Regions from separate parts of the Homo sapiens genome. Here region 2 is linked to region 1. The links come from fine-mapping of genetic effects on gene expression. A gene starts in region 1. The other region holds a variant in brackets. All regions are shown on one strand. Distances are between the middles of the regions.

What was found.
Region 2: its variant is fine-mapped to the expression of DUOXA1 in atrial appendage (GTEx, PIP 0.93).

Annotation. Positions count from the first base shown.
Region 1 is chr15:45,127,283-45,131,795 of GRCh38, forward strand. It overlaps DUOXA1 (dual oxidase maturation factor 1), which reads right to left and starts at 2,597. Exons shown (of 9, transcript NM_001276266.2): 1 at 2,570-2,597; 2 at 2,178-2,333; 3 at 1,736-1,852. DUOX1 (dual oxidase 1) reads left to right here and starts at 2,712. Exons shown (of 34, transcript NM_175940.3): 1 at 2,712-2,816.
Region 2 is chr15:45,149,181-45,153,180 of GRCh38, forward strand. It overlaps DUOX1 (dual oxidase 1), which reads left to right. Exons shown (of 34, transcript NM_175940.3): 22 at 1,452-1,521; 23 at 1,943-2,068; 24 at 2,694-2,872; 25 at 3,106-3,336. LOC124903480 (a long non-coding RNA gene) reads right to left here and starts at 2,700. Exons shown (of 2, transcript XR_007064607.1): 1 at 2,310-2,700. The variant C/T (reference allele first, on the strand shown) is at 2,386.

The DNA.
Region 1 (4,513 bases):
AGGGTTAAATATTATTCCTGCATTTATTTTAAAGGGAGGTTATAAAAAAATTTACAAGAATGTTTCATTTCTATTAACATGTGCTTAAAAGAAACACTAACAAAAGGCTTTTCGTATTTTAAGTATAGAACAATGTTAACTTATTTCCAGTTCTCCAAAATGTCATATTTATTAAAGATGACAGAAGCAAAAAAACAGTTGGTAAATGAAATTTGCCTTTCTTAATTTCTTCTTGTTCCATTTCATAACTTAGGTCTTCCTTTATTTGCATTGCCTAATTTAAAGTTAATTTTTCATGACCCTGACCCTAATTTTGTTTTCATTATTAAGCTAACAGGGCTCATGCATGAAGAGGTGGGACAGAAATGAGAAGACCCCACACCCCACAGTCCTGCTTTTCCTACAACGCTTGTGTTTCCCTGGGGAACATCTTTCTTTCTGGCTCGTCAAGTAACATCTGACAGTAAAATTAGTTTTAATGTGAGAAAATCTCATATCAATATTAACTTGACCCACTCCTCCCCTACCTCATCACCATGACTAGGATGTATGCACAGTGTACATTGATATAAATAAGCAGACACAAGATACAGTCAAATATGCACCTACAAATTTAGATAAACAGAGACACAGACGCAAGAACCACCCAGACTGTCATTCTCAGTAATATAGACTTCATCCCAGGCCCCTGTGACAAAATTGGGATGCTTTCTCATGGGGTGGGGGGAGTTTCCCACACTTTAGGGTCCTCCTTTCTCACCTGGCCTAGGGAGGAGGAGGCAGCATCCTCCCTTTCCAGGCTCCCTTATGTACTGAAGACTTTCCTTATGCTCAATCTTATTATAGACACAATTACCCAATCCTTACCTACCACAGGTTGAAGTGGAGTTCCTATGTGTGTATGAGAGGTGGGTAAAACATAAAGTTACAATCTTTAAGAAAATTCAGCCTAGAACAACCTCCAGCCTTCTTCATTCAAAGTTATGTGCTAACGTCTTGTGGCCTCTCTTGTAGCCTGACAGGACTTTTTTCCTGAAGTCTTCCCCCTTGCCCACCTCCCCCATCTGCTGGAAACTATAGAGTAAGGGCCACTAATTCTCCACAAGTGGGGAGTGGGTGACATGGCTGGAGTTGCCAAGACCTCTGATTGGTAATGCACAGCTACTGCAATGTGATGCTTTTTTCTCTGATTGGGGTAGACCCCATTAAACGTTTACAGCTGTGGCTAGCTAAGGGGACCCTGTCAGGAACTCCTGTGCTAGACTTTCCTCTTCAAGGAAGGGGTCTGTGTGTACGTGTGTATCTGTGTATGAATGTATATGTGTGTTGTTGCACAAAAATAGGAGTTAAGTGGAGAAATTGAACAAGATCTGAAAAGTGGATTGGAGGCAGGATTCCCCAGTAAGGGCTGATGTGGATAAGGAATTCAAGGGTGCAGAATCATGCAAGCCAAAGTATCCAGACTCGAGTTAAACTGGGATGGCGATTCGATGTCTATAAACCTTGTGGCATTTATGGCCTTAAGAGGTTTTCCTTGCCTCCCCAGTTTCTTACCAAACTCTCTCTTTGAAGAACTCCCACTTGATCCGAACTTGGTCTGGATGAAAGCAGGAAGTGCAGCCCTAGGTGCCAGGGCGGGAGCAAGCACTTCAAGACCCCCTCCAAAATCACCTGGACCGCACAGATCTAAGCAGCCGCATCCCCCACCACCCACACCCGGACCACTATTCCCTACCTTCCCCTCTTCCAAACAGTGCGTGTGTGGCAGCCTGCGCCTCTCGCCTTCCCCCGTGGAACCTCACACGAAGCGCCCCCGGGGGTGTGATTAAAGAGGGAACCAGGTCCCGACGTTCTGTGAACAAACGCGCGCCCTTACTCTCAGTGGGGCTCCCGTCCGACCCCCACTCCTCTCCTAACTCACGTAAGGACCCGGCTGTGACCGGACAAACCGGGTCTGGGGTGCTTCCAGTCACTCTTCAAGTCACTCCCAAACTTCTCAGACTGCACCCGAGGCTCTGCGGCGCCGCCTCCCTCTCCCGGCCTGGTACAGAGAAGGGCTGGGTGCGCCAGGACAGTAGTACCGGGGTCTGCCAGCTCCGCAGAGGTCCCTCCAATCCCCCCTCCTCCTCTGCGCCCCCCCACCCATGCCCAGCAATCCCAGCAGCTCCAGCGCAAACCTAGCGACGCAGTTCCGGGTCTGGCGGGGCGCGGGCGCGGCTCGCAGGGCGGTGGGACCCCCAAGACCTCACGAGGATCCCCGGAGGGAGACGTGACTCCGGGGTCTTAGAGGGGTTTAGGTCGGATGGGTGACTTGCTTTGACGCCTGGCCTGGTCTGTGGGTGGCAGGTGATCGATGGCCTTGGACTTGGAGCCCAGACCCGACGGTGTCGAGAGGATCTGAGGAGAGTCTCCCCTCCCCATACCCTCTCCGCCTCCCACCCTCTCCCCAGCCCCATGGGACTTGTGAAGGCGGACTTGCTTTTTTCGCCGTCCACACAACCGCACTAGCCGGGCCTTCGGCACCGACGGAACATCTCTACCTGCGCCCCGGGAGCCCTCGCCGTCTCACCTCGCGCGCTGCCGTCCGCTGGAAGCACCTCCGCGCCTCCCCAGGCGCCAGACTCCATCCCGCCCCACTGCGCCCCGCCCCGTGGCTGAGCCGAGCCGGGCCGTGCCTTCCCCTCCTCACCCCCAGCCCCGCCCGTCCCGGCGCAGAGCTGCAGAGGCACCGGACGAGAGAGGGCTCCGCGGGCCCAGCTGGCAGCCAGGCCGGAGACAAGTTGCAGTCCCGGGCTCTGGTGACGCCGTGGCCGCAGGTCAGATTTGGGAGGGCTTTTCCCGGCCCGCGGGCCTGGGCGCTCCGGGGGAGGGAGCTCCAAGGGCAGGGTGGCGGGGGAGCCGCAGCTCCTCCACGTTATGGAAGAAAGGGGAATGCTAGCCCCCTGCGCCTCCGATCTTATCCTAAGGCTAAAACCGGTCCTGTTAGGGCCTGTCCTCTGCCCAATCAAGGTTTTGAGAGACTGGGTTCTTTGGGACCTGGGAATGTTGGGTGGCCTAGTTTGCCTGGGCCTGCGGGTTCTTCTCCTGGCACCAGCACAACATACCAGGGAGGGAGCTTTGGGCTTTAGGATCCAAGCTTTCCCCCTCAGCCCTCCCTTAGGACCAAGATGGCCTTGACCCATCTTCCTCCCACCTCAGGGCCACCAGGGTCACCACTCTAGGGCTTCAGGCTGGAAAAGCAGCCATGTGGGGCAAGAACAGGCAGGCCTGTGTTCTCTCTCTGGTTCTGCCGCTGGCTCTGCCTGGGGCTTCACTGCCCTGTCCTGGGCAACCTTCCTGTCAAGGTTGTTGAGAAGTTACTGCCCCATCGTTGTGTAAATCATTAAGGGCAACCCACCCACAAGGAGTGGTTATTAAGCATGTCCACCTTCCTCTTCAGGTCATCCCCACACAGCCTGGTCTGAAAGCCCATTTCATGCCCTTAGGGGCTGAGTGGTACATTAGCGTTGAGGCCCAGGATCCTGAAGACATGGTGGTGGCGGGGGAGGGGAATGACATCTTGGGATCAGGGAAGGACCGCTGTGGCTACTTCCGTATATCCAGCTTTACAGCTTCAACCATCCAGAGCCCAGCTCTTCATGCACTATTAAAGGCCAGCACCTGGACAGACTCTGTGAAATGCAGCAGGTGATACTGAGCTTTCCAGTTATGGCAGGGCCTAGGTTTTTTCATTTAATAGGAGATGGAGTAGGGATGAGGTCACTCCCTGGGTTCTCTCCTCTAGACAACCCATCCAGGAACCCTGATGTTTGGCTGGGGATGAGGCTTTCCCTGAGCTCCTTTCTTCCTCTATCCTAACCCCAATCTCCAGGTTGCCTTCAGGAGGTCTTCGCCGGCTTTAGGTACTCCTTACTCGCACTCAGGAGTCCCAGCCTGAGTCCTCTGCTGCCTCTGTTTCCCTGTTGACTCTGGGTGGAGAGAGAGAGAGCAGGAAGCTTGCACTAAATACATGAGCACCTGGTAGTGCATCCCTTCTGGATCCAACCAGAGGAGACAAGCTCCCGCCTACCCTCTCTATATCACATTTGCCCAACACCTGTCACTTGCTTTGAATTAAACCTCCTTCTCACATTTGATTCTGGCAACCATGCTTAGAAGTAAACAGTTCAGGCATATTTGCTCCCATAGCTGGAAGAGGAAAACAAGGATCAGATTGGAGAAGTGATTTATCTAAGATCCCACAGTGGACTGGGAGCAGCACTGAGACCTCAGCCTAGTCTCCTGATCCCCAAGCAGGGCCCTGCCTAAGGAACACACTCTGCAGAGTGCTGGGCCAAAGCAGGGTTTTCCAACTAATCTTAGAAGGTAAAGTCCATGAAGGTATGTACCAGGGATTTCTGTTTGTTTTGTTCGTCACTTAATCTCCAGTGTCTATGTCAGTGGCTGGTATGTAGTGGTGCTCATGAAGTATTTGCCGAATCAATTAAAGAATTTTCGGAAAGAGTGAGTCTCT
Region 2 (4,000 bases), 22 kb after region 1:
CCAGAATTATGAGAAGGGGTAGGCTGAGCAGCCTCCACAGGGAAGAGGGGCAAGTTAGATAAGACACAGATGAGCCTCTGGTCAGGGCTTCCCCCTGGGGGTAAGGAGAGCTGGAAGAGAAGGAACCCAGCACTCCTGATTCTGCAGCTTTTTACCTTTCCCAGGCAGCCAGGGCAGCAGGCACCTGAGCCTAAGGGCAGGGGCAACGAAGGTGCATGGAAGGGAGCCCACACCACAGAGTCCCAGGGACATCCAACACCTGGGGTGGAGGGTAAAACCAGGCTTGGGGATTGAGGAAGATTAGCACTGAGTATTGTTTTCTTTTAATTGTTATTGACTCCAGATTTTTTTTATAAAGATTTTAAAACTAAAGAAAAGGAACAAAAGGCCAGGTGCAATAGCTCATGCCTGTAATCCCAGCACTTTGGGAGGCCAAAGTGGGAGGATCACTTGAGGTCAGGAGTTTGAGACCAGCCTGGCCAACATAGAGAAACCCCATCTCTATTTAAAAAAGTACAAAAATTACCCAGGTGTGGTGGCACATGCCTGTAGTCCCAAGTACTCCAGAGGCTGAGGCACAAGAATCGCTTGAACCAGGAGGCGGAGGCTGTAGTGAGCCAAGATTGTGCCACTGCACTCCAACCTGGGCGACAGAGACTCTGTCTCAAAAAAAGAGATGTTCCTTCACTTTTCACCTAGATATGCTATTTGTTACCATTTTACCACATTTGCTGTTTGTGGAACATTTGAGAGTACAGGCATTAATACTTTGTTTTAAACATTCTGATTTAATTTTAATATAGTTCAGCTTATCTTCTTTTGACCTCAACTATAGACCAGGGTCATCTTCAGGCTTGGTTCAGCACTTGGAAGAAACCCAGAGATTCCCAGGACTCCTGTAAGAATTTGGCTTTGCAGCTTAGTCCTGCCCTGCCTTCAGTGCTCAGCCTAGACAGGAACAATGGGGTGGCTCCTGGGAGAGCTTTTCTCCTGCATATTTTATTATGAACATTTTCAAACACAGAAAAGTAAAAAGAACTGTAGCGTGATCTCCCATATACCTACCACCTAGATTCTACATTTAGCTCTTGGAGGTTTTAAGCTAGAGGATCTTAAGCCAAATTTTTATGGCAGAGCAGGCTCAGAAGGCAGGTTATATACAGTTCCCGAAATCTACCCCATAGTCCCAGAAGTGGGACTGATGATGGACACACTTTAGGGAAGCCTGCCTGGCCAACTTTCTTTCAGGCCTTTTCCCTGCCCACCTATGGCTGGGTCCAGCTCCCATTGGGGACAAGGGCTGAGGTTGGAGCACCCGAAAGCAGGGCCTCCATTGGTCTGGGACTGTCTACTGTGCCTGAGCATGGGATGGTAGGAGTGCTGTGCGTTTGAGCCAGGTCTTCCTGGGCTCTGGACCCTGAGCTGCTCCCTAGCCTGGCTCTGCTTTGCAGGGGTGGAGGTGCCTGAAGTCATCAAGGACCTCTGCCGGCGAGCCTCCTACATCAGCCAGGATATGATCTGGTGAGCACCCATCTGGGAATGTCGGGGGGAGGAGTTGGGGAGTTGCCATTTCTCTCCCCTGAATGGCTGGGATCAGGGCCACCGCTAGCCCATGCAGCACCTTCAAACAAATTAGAAAAGGACACCCCTTTCTCTAGGCAGACACAGCCCTGTGCCAGGGCAAGCAGAAAGCCTGCTGGATTTCCGCTCTCACTTACGGCCTGGCCCAGATGCCCTTGTGAAGGGTAAAGGCATATGCAGCAGCCTTAGCGAGGACCCCCAAGATCAGACTCTGTCTATAGGTGACTGTGGGAATCCTGCTGTCCCCTTGCTGACAGCTCTGATCCTTCCTCAGCAGAATGGGTTTGGAGGCAGACCAGGATAGCAGAGGAACGAGTGGTTGAGATGGCCAGCATCCTATCTCTTACCATTCTTGTCTTAGTCCCTCTCCCAGAGTGAGTGCCCGCTGTTCCCGCAGCGACATTGAGACTGAGTTGACACCTCAGAGACTGCAGTGCCCCATGGACACAGACCCTCCCCAGGAGATTCGGCGGAGGTTTGGCAAGAAGTATGTCTGCTCTTCCCCTTAAGCCCAGGCAGTTCATCCATTCCTTCAGCTTATAAACATCTTTTCCTTGGTGCCAGGCACTGTGCTAAACATTGTGGGTACAGGCAGGGTGAATAGTCCTTGCCCAAGAACATCACAATCTAAGAAGAGAATCTGGTACACTGATAATTTCAATGTCCCACTGATGACTGTTCTAATAGTGGTAAGAGCGAAGGGCTTTGGAACTCAAGGAAGCACTCACCTCTGCCAGGGAGGTCAGAGATGCCTTCATGGAAGAGGTGTCCTTTGAGTCTCTAGTAAAGGCTGAATATGGGCGC[C/T]GGGTGGGAGTTGGGAGCTACAGACTGGAAGGAGAGGGACTGAGTGTGAATGAACACAGGTAGATGGAGTACATCCCCTGGGAAGAAATGACCACTCCAAGCCATCCCTCCACTGCCAGCTTGCTTATGCAGTGCAATATAGCCTGATGCGGTGAGGTCTGAACCCTTCTTCCACAAGGGTAACTAGGTTTCTTTCTCGGAAGCAGTGGGCTTCCCTCACTTCTGGGCGGCTCACCTCCGTGAAGTGGGGCCCCACTAGCGTTGGGTCCCATGGTGGGTGCCAAAGGCTAAGGCTTCCTGTCTCCCAGGGTAACGTCATTCCAGCCCTTGCTGTTCACTGAGGCGCACCGAGAGAAGTTCCAACGCAGCTGTCTCCACCAGACGGTGCAACAGTTCAAGCGCTTCATTGAGAACTACCGGCGCCACATCGGCTGCGTGGCCGTGTTCTACGCCATCGCTGGGGGGCTTTTCCTGGAGAGGGCCTACTGTGAGTGACTTTACTTACCACGAGCCCTGTCCCTAGGCTTGCAATGAGTGATCGCCCTGGGGGTGGGGCCTGCGATAAGTGCCAGCCCTGGGTAGGGTAAGTGGAGCCTGTCTGAGTGAAGACTGTGCGGGGGAGGCCTGTTGTGAGTGGCAGCCGGCCAGGGCCTACCGCCCCTAACCAGCTCTCTGTCCTCTGCACTGACCCTCGCTTGCCTGCCTGGGCCCCCTCCACAGACTACGCCTTTGCCGCACATCACACGGGCATCACAGACACCACCCGCGTGGGAATCATCCTGTCGCGGGGCACAGCAGCCAGCATCTCTTTCATGTTCTCCTACATCTTGCTCACCATGTGCCGCAACCTCATCACCTTCCTGCGAGAAACCTTCCTCAACCGCTACGTGCCCTTCGACGCCGCCGTGGACTTCCATCGCCTCATTGCCTCCACCGCCATCGTCCTCACAGGCAGGGCCTGGGTGTCCCTGGGAGGCTCTCCAGGGCCTCCCGCCCCCGCTGACTTCCCCTCGTATGAGAGCCCCCCTCTCTGCTGGCACTTACCTTTAATGTCCTTCTCCATCAGGATGGAGTTGGCCTGGGCCAGGGTGTGAAGTAAGCCCGGGAGCCTGTCGCTGGTCACTTCCAAGTGCCTCTTCCCGCACTTTCCAGGGCGCCTCACCAGCCTCAGCTGACAAGTTACTAACACCCCAGAATGAGTGTGCATAATGTGTCAATTCTCCCAATTTTTATGTTTTAAAGCATGACTCTGAGAGAAAGCAAAGGAGTGAACTTCTAATGCTGTAATTTCAGACTCACATGGTTGCGCACATGGATGGTGTGTCTGTGGGGTGTTGGGTAGGGCCAGGTGATTGTTTAGAGGTCAGAAGTCCAGGCCGGCGCGGCGGCTTATGCCCCTAATCCCAGCACTTTGGGAAGCTGAGGCGGGCGGATCACTTGAGGTCAGGAGTTCGAGACCAGCCTGGCCAACATGGTGAAACCCCGTCTCTACTAAAAATACAAAAATCAGCTGGGTGTGGTGGCACATGCCGGTAATCCCAGCTACTCAGGAGGCTGAGGCAGGAGAATTGCTTGAACCTGGGAGGCAGAGGTTGCAGTGAGCCGAGATCGCACC